Homo sapiens: one gene and its partner. The protein of the gene in region 2 purifies or fractionates together with the protein of the main gene of each other region. This does not show direct contact. Each region holds a gene or a part of one and is shown on either strand. Other genes may lie near its edges. The genes, in order: PGM2L1 and EIF2AK4.

Region 1 (3,824 bases), on a different chromosome or scaffold from region 2:
TTTTCATAAACCTTAACCAGTTGCTGTTTCAATGTTATATTCATGGTTTCCAGGTAAGATGCCATCTCAGCAACCACAACAGCTGCACTCACCCCATCTTTATCCAAAACTGAAGTTCCACAGAGAAAACCTGAGGATTGAAAACCATCACTAGAAAAGAGGAAAACTTAAGGCTATAATTTCAATAGTTTTACATTTCTTCAGAAGGACCAGGAAATTTAAAAGCCTAGTAATAGATGAAACTCATCAATACTGAGTGTATTTAGGGGACACTTTCGTTCTTTTTTTTTTCTGATAAGAAATGTATCTACATATTTCTCATTCTCTGTAGTTTTTACAACTCAAAATATGAAACCAGAACACAAAAAACTCCTCCTACAGAATTACATTTTAAAAATTATCAATCAAATTTTGAAGATTTTAATATTTACTACATACCAATAGACTCTTCAAATGCAAAAAGGACTTCTTTCCCATTTTCCAGGAGGTCTATTATCCTACTTCCAATCCATTTAAAACCTGGTAATGTTTCCTGAAATGCAGAGGAGGCCACTCTAGTTAAGTGACTGTCTCACAAATACCTATTAGAGAAAAATCTGCCACTACATGCACACAACGTTCATATAATGATCCTTACTATAGTCTTCAGTCCACAAAGATTTATACAGTAGCAGACATATAGTAATGAAGGGCCATAAATACACACACTGCTACTACTAATGACCTACTATTTACAGATTATAGTACTAGGTGATTTACACCAAATATAAACCAGCATTTATAAGTGGTGCTTCATGTAGTCACAAAGTAACATGAATAAGCACATACAGTATAATCAGTATAATCACCTACTATTAAGGACTGAACCAGGTGCTTTACATTATCTTTTTTTTTTTTTTTTTTTTTTTTTTTGAGACGGAGTCTCGCTCTGTCACCCAGGCTGGAGTGCAGTGGCGCAATTTCAGCTCACTGCAACCTCCGTCTCCCAGGTTCAAGCAATTCTCCTGTCTCAGCCTCCTAAGTAGCTAGGATTACAGGTGTGCCACCACGCCCAGCTAATTTTTGTATTTTTAGTAGAGACGGGGTTTCACCATGTTGGTCAGGCTGGTCTTGAACTCCTGACCTTGTGATCCACCTGCCTCAGCCTCCCAAAGTGCTGGGATTACAGGCGTGAGCCACCACGTCTGGCCCCATTATCTTTTTTTAATGCTCAAAAACGCTGTCGCTGAAACACAGCCTTGAAAGATAAGTCAATCTGCCCAAAATTATACTGCATATAAGAGATGGAGTCAAGATTCAATTTCAAGTTTCTGCTTCTCAGAAACTGTCCTTTAAGCTATATTACAACCACTAATATAAGAGTGCCTATGAAAGTTGGTGGATTTACTCTCCCTGAGTAATCAATGAAAGGTCATGAAGCTTTTTAGTGATGCACTTTTAATATTAGCATAACATAAGCTTGAACCAAGTGTACCTTCTCATAACACTGTGTCCTAACTATTAATAAAACCACCAAGACAGTTACTAACTACTTCTTTAAATAATTAGATTTGAGGACTTTTCATCTAATGAGCTACTGTTCACTTTAAAGACACAGAAAGAGTTTCAGAGTCAACAGAAAGAGTATGTGATACACCCTAATACTAAAGCTCACCATTACTAACTTGTTTCCTAATTCACCTTTCTACCTCCTTACTACAAAATAAAAATTAAAAAGTCAAAAACCTCCCTGCTACAACAAAAACAAGCAAATAAAATTATAATAGTGGTCTTTAGAATTGTTCTTCTTTCTCTTTTGTGCCCATTATACTTCTTCTTGCTATAGACATAAACTAGGAAAACATCAGAATCTTAGGTGTGAATCAACTTTCAGTATCTTCTATTTTGCTATTTGTGTTTTAGAAAGCATAAGGTTGAAAGCTCTATTTCATAAAGCCAGGTACAATTTTCTTTTACTCAGTAAATTAGTGTTAAGACCTGTAGCCTGACTATGGCTCAAGAAAAATGTCCAGGGACATTTTCACTGATATTTGGCAAAGATGGCAGAGAAAAAGCAATTTAGTTAACATGGCTGCAAAAATGGTCAGCTTAAGGGTCTTAAGGTCATAAGGTTAATGATCTGGGCTGAGAGAGAGCCACTGCTTGTTTTTTTGGATGTAGGATCATTGGGTTTACTATGCAATTTAGAAGACTACTTGAAGTTCCTTAAGACCATGCTTGAAGAGCCTGAACAAGGGGTTGATGACACCTACAACTTTTTGGAGAGAAGTCTGAGTTACTGATGGGGTCACCAGGAGCTATATTTTCCCTGTCTGAAAACCAGATATTTGTTGTACAGAATAATAAGTATTAATGTAATTTTTAAAGAATATCTCATCTTAGTCCCAGAAATTCATATACGGTACTGGATGAATTTTGGCTCAAGGTGTCTAAATTATCAAAAGAGACTGAACAAGTGTTAACAGAATTAGAAAAATAAGGGAATTACAAATGAAATCAATGAAAGTCAGTCTTGGTGGGGAGATGTCTTTAACATACAGAAATAGGTTTTAAAAAGTAGCACACAGATATTATTGATTCTTACTTCAAAATGAAATCCTTCTTTAAGTGCAATTGCCTTCAGAATTTTAGAAGAGACTGTGGTGGCTAACATATAAACGTTCTTCACATCAGCATTTCTTGATTTATTTTTCTTCCAGCAATCAAACATCCACCATCCAAACAAAGCTGCCAACTCATTCCCTGTGAAAACTTTCCAACAACCACTGTAGAGAGAAGGAAAATACAATGTCAAGACCTTTCTTCTCATTAAAACTTCTTGACTCCAAGGCCTAAAAATTACCATCCTTCAGTTAGGAAAAATCAAAAACTATCATATGGGATTTTTGAGAAAACATTTATTACTACTTCTTTTCTAACTGACCAGGGGTGATTTTACGGTAGGAATGGTACAACGTCTTTTGGAAAATTATTATATCATTACATTTATTCTTTTACTTAATGAGAGAAAAAATTATGATAAATAATTAAGCCTTTCTATTTAAGGACATTTGTCACATTATAATGGTAAAAATACATAGCAGCCCAGAGGACTAAGATTAGGAAATAGGTGGCTCATGCCTGTAATCGCAGCACTTTGGGGGGCCAAGGTGGGAGGATCACCTGAGGTCAGGAGTTCGAGACCAGCCTGACCAACATGGCAAAACCCTGTCTCTACTAAAAATACAAAATTAGCCAGGCATGGTGGCACATGCCTGTAGTCCCAGCTACTTAGGAGGCTGAGGCAGGAGAATAGCTTGAACCTGGGAGGCAGAGGCTGCAGTGAGCCAAGATAGCACCATTGCACTCCACTCCAGCCTAAGCAACAAGAGCGAAACTATGTCTCCAAAAAAAAAAAAAAAAAAAAAAAAAAGCAAACAAACAAAAAAAAAGGTTAGGAAATAACTACATCATAAAGCGATCTGTTGGGATATTATGTCTTTGTAAAAATTAATATTTTCAAAAAATGTATAAAGTCAGGGGAAAATGCTTACACTGTAAGCATTATACTTAACCATTACACTGTAAGCAGTTTTTGAAGCATTTTGTACAATTAATGTGGAAAATAATCAAGATATAAAACTATGATCATAATTTAATAAAAACAAATACATCTTTAAATATTTCAATTTAAAAGACAGGAAAGAATTATCAAAGTATCAACTTAGGTGGTTATTTTGGGATAATGGATTTACAGGAAATTTATGTTCTTTTCTTATCTTTTCATTATTTTCAATGAGCCTGTAAGACTTAAAATACATTGCTTTTCAAAGTTCAAGCTTTTA
Region 2 (3,824 bases):
TATCATCTCTCTGTCTCTGTGTGCACTGTTTCACTGCGCTACGCCTTTATAAGGAATCATTTCAAAATTATGAAGAGATAATTGACAAGGATTATTAAACAAATGGTCAAGATAAGTTATAAAAACCTCATTTCCCCTGAGATCATATTGCTAGACACCCCTTTCTGAGTGGATTAAGAGCAAATCTTCTTTTTTTTTTTTGAGACAGAGTCTCACTCTGTCACCCAGGCTGGAGTGCAGTGGTGCAACATCAGCTCACCACAACCTCTGCCTCCCATGTTCAAGCGATTCTCCTGCCTCAGCCTCCCGAATAGCTAGTATTATAAGCGCCGGCCACCATGCCCTGCTAATTTTTCTATTTTCAGTAGAGACGGGGTTTCACCATGTTGGCCAAGCTGGTCTCAAACTCCTGACCTCAGGTGATCCCCCAGCCTTGGCCTCCCAAAGTGCTGGGATTACGGGCATGAGCCATCGTACCCAGCCAAGGGCAAACCTTTAGACACCATTTGGAATCCTTTCTAGGCTTTGGTATGTAACCCTGTGATTGTATCCTGGGATAGGAAATAAGATGGCAAGAAAGATGGCTTGGTTTAACATGTTCTGAATTCCATTTTCTTACTATTTAGGTACAAACTCGACTTCAGACCTCCCTTGCCAACTTACATCAGAAAAGCAGTGAAATTGAAATTCTGGCTGTAAGTGGCTTTCTTTAGTATTTTGAAGGTGGCTTCTGTCCATACTGTCAAAGTAGTTGCCTCAGGGTTCAGAGCTTTTTTGCTCAGTGTCAGCAGAATTTGGATGCAGGCCTTATTGTGATGTGAACTACACGCAATTTAAAACTATTAAGAACTAGGGGGAGAATTTAAGGTTTTTTGTTTCTCCTCTTTGTTCCTCTTTAAGATAGAGGAAAATGAAAACAAAAGTCATTTTCCTACATATATCAGGCCTTTGCCTTGCTAAGCTTACACCGAATACATGTAGCAGCGTCAGACCTTTCGGGTGTGGTGTAGAGGGACAGGGAGTACAGTTTCCACTGCTTATTAATTCTCCAGGGCTAAGATCTTATCACTGCACAGTTCATTAAGCCCTTTTACAGCACAATAGCATCTCAGACTCTGCAAACCCTATTCATACTGCTGCATTTCACGTGACACTATGGTCACAAGGCAGTATTGTGCTGCTGAGAGTTGATGTACATTTGTGTGTATTCACAGGTGGATCTACCCAAAGAAACAATATTACAGTTTTTATCATTAGAGGTAAGCAATATGAACTCTTCTGCACTGTGGCCTTTAAGATCCCAAATCTTTGCTATTAGTTTGCCAAAATACTGAAGACGGCATTCATTAGTGATAGTATTTTTCTGGCAGCTGCAGGAATTTAGTAACATTTTTCCTTTTATGTAACATATATGTTCCTAAATCCTATGTTGAAGGACTCATACTTTTCTAGTGACTTTATTTTTCAGATACTTATTTTATTAAAAACAAAAAACAAAAACAAAAAAACACATATACTGCTTTTACTATGTGTCAGGGTCTGGCAGGCCTTGTTGTAAGCATTTTACAAGTAGTAACTCATTTAATCATTACCACCCCAAAATGTAGATACTGTTATTATCCCTTTACAGAGTACGGAAGTAGAGAGGTTAAATATCTTACCCACAGTCACCCAGCTAGTAAGTAGTAGAACCAGGATTTGAACCTAAGCAGACTAGCAGAATCGGTGTTCTTAACCACTATACTATACTATCTCTCAAACCTCCATTCCAGCTAGGGAAGCTCATTTGCAGATTAGTACTATACAAAACAAAATCCTTTTGTAAAAATTAATTAGGTCCTTTATAAATATATATATATTTTTACAGGTACATCCCTTTATCATCAAATAGCCTAAATAAGAACTTTAAAAATTTGAATAGTTATCTTTGCTATTAAGAACACTCAACTATAGTCATAGCTACAGGTGACTTTTGCAACATGTCATATCAAAGAATACTTTTTTGTCTATCCAGAGTGTTTAGTCACAAATTAAATTAGATTAATAGTGAACTTAGCCCTAGAACTAGTATTTTATATATCATTTTTTGTTCTCTTACAAATAAGCATATACCACTATCTCACTGGCAGTGTACTGATTTATGATCCAGTCAAATGGATATACTTAAGAGCTGCTATCACCGTTGTACAAAAAGTAAACAGAGGCCGGGTGCAGTGGCTCACGCCTGTAATCCCAGCACTTTGGGAGGCCGACGTGGGTGGATCACCTGAGGTCTGGGGTTTGAGACCAGCCTGGCCAACATGGTGAAACCCCATCTCTACTAAAAATACAAAAAATTAGCCGGGCGTAGTGGCAGGCGCCTGTAATCCCAGCTACTTGGGAGGCTGAGGCAGAAGAATTACTTGAACCCAGGAGGTGGAGGTTGCAGTGAGCCGAGATTGTGCCACTGCACTCCAGCCTGGGCAACAAGACCGAAACTCCATCTCAAAAAAAAAAAAAAAAAAAGTAAACGGTAGGCAGAAATAACTGCTCTAAAGTCACATCAGCACACTAGGGCTGCAGCATTGTTAATCAGGCTCTAATTAGGGAGTCTTGTTTTAAGGAAAACTGGTGCTTCAGAGGAACCCCAGCAGTCTCCTAACTGGTTCTGCTATCTCCCTATTACTGATTCTCCTGGTATACTTGAAGAGGGAAATGACACTGGAATTTCATTAGTGACCCAGAAAAAACCAGCTAGTAAACCCTAGAGACCTGTTGTTAAGTCTTATCTATTTTTTTCCTAGTGGGATGCTGATGAACAGGCATTTAACACAACTGTGAAGCAGCTGCTGTCACGCCTGCCAAAGCAAAGATACCTCAAATTAGTCTGTGATGAAATTTATAACATCAAAGTAGAAAAAAAGTAAGTTATCACTTGGGCATAGCAGGGTTCACATGGTTAAAATTCAGGGCGGGGGGTTTCAGAGTGACATTATTTTGTTGTCTTGTTGAGGTTTGACGCCTGGTAAGCTGTTCTTAGAATTGCAGCTGACAACCAATAAATCTTGCTTGGACTGTGAATCACAGTCATGATCTCATCAATAACAAAACACAGGGGTCCTAGGAGTAGCTGTCCCAATTACAATTTTGTTCACCCAGGTAATTCACTTTCTAAGTATGTTTAAATCAAAGAAAATAACCATGACTACTTTGCTGTATGTCCTTATGTCATAATGCCAATCAATCAATCAATCATTCATGTTATCATACACTTAAAAGGCAACAAGGAAGCCTATGAGGTGAATGGTTATCTCCTTACTAGGACCTTATACTGCAGACCCCTGTCAGTCACACCTTGTATAAAACCTATATAATTTTTTAATGACTAGCCTTCCATCTTGTTTTTGCTTAAATAAAGCTCCTACAGGTGTTATAAAAATTTATTAGCTCTGTTCTTCACTCATTAAACTGAGTCTGTCCTTATATCTTTTCTTTTCTTTTGCAGGGTGTCTGTGCTATTTCTGTACAGCTATAGAGATGACTACTACAGAATCTTATTTTAACCCTAAAGAACTGTCGTTAACCTCATTCAAACAGACAGAGGCTTATACTGGAATAATGGAATGTTGTACATTCATCATAATTTAAAATTAAATTCTAAGAAGAGGCTGGGTGCAGTGGCTCACACCTTTAATCCCAGCACTTTGGGAAGCCAAGGCAGGAAGACTGCTTGAAACCAGGAGTTTGAGACCAGCCTGAGCAACAAAGCAAGACCCCATCTCTATAAAAACTAAAAAAATTAGTTGGGCATGGTGGCACATGCCTGTAGTCCCAGCTACTCCAGA

Evidence for each region.
Region 1: the proteins of EIF2AK4 (region 2) and PGM2L1 purify together in Homo sapiens (affinity purification with mass spectrometry; one large-scale study listed by BioGRID and IntAct). This does not show direct contact.

The regions. Positions count from the first base shown.
Region 1 is NC_000011.10:74,342,885-74,346,708, forward strand, and holds part of PGM2L1 (glucose 1,6-bisphosphate synthase), read right to left. Parts: intron 2,766-3,824; coding exon 2,585-2,765; intron 533-2,584; coding exon 439-532; intron 131-438; coding exon 1-130. UniProt on the Homo sapiens protein: Glucose 1,6-bisphosphate synthase using 1,3-bisphosphoglycerate as a phosphate donor and a series of 1-phosphate sugars, including glucose 1-phosphate, mannose 1-phosphate, ribose 1-phosphate and deoxyribose 1-phosphate, as acceptors.
Region 2 is NC_000015.10:40,031,543-40,035,366, forward strand, and holds part of EIF2AK4 (eIF-2-alpha kinase GCN2), read left to right. Parts: intron 1-626; coding exon 627-695; intron 696-1,214; coding exon 1,215-1,259; intron 1,260-2,783; coding exon 2,784-2,902; intron 2,903-3,484; coding exon 3,485-3,542; 3' UTR 3,543-3,824. UniProt on the Homo sapiens protein: Metabolic-stress sensing protein kinase that phosphorylates the alpha subunit of eukaryotic translation initiation factor 2 (EIF2S1/eIF-2-alpha) in response to low amino acid availability.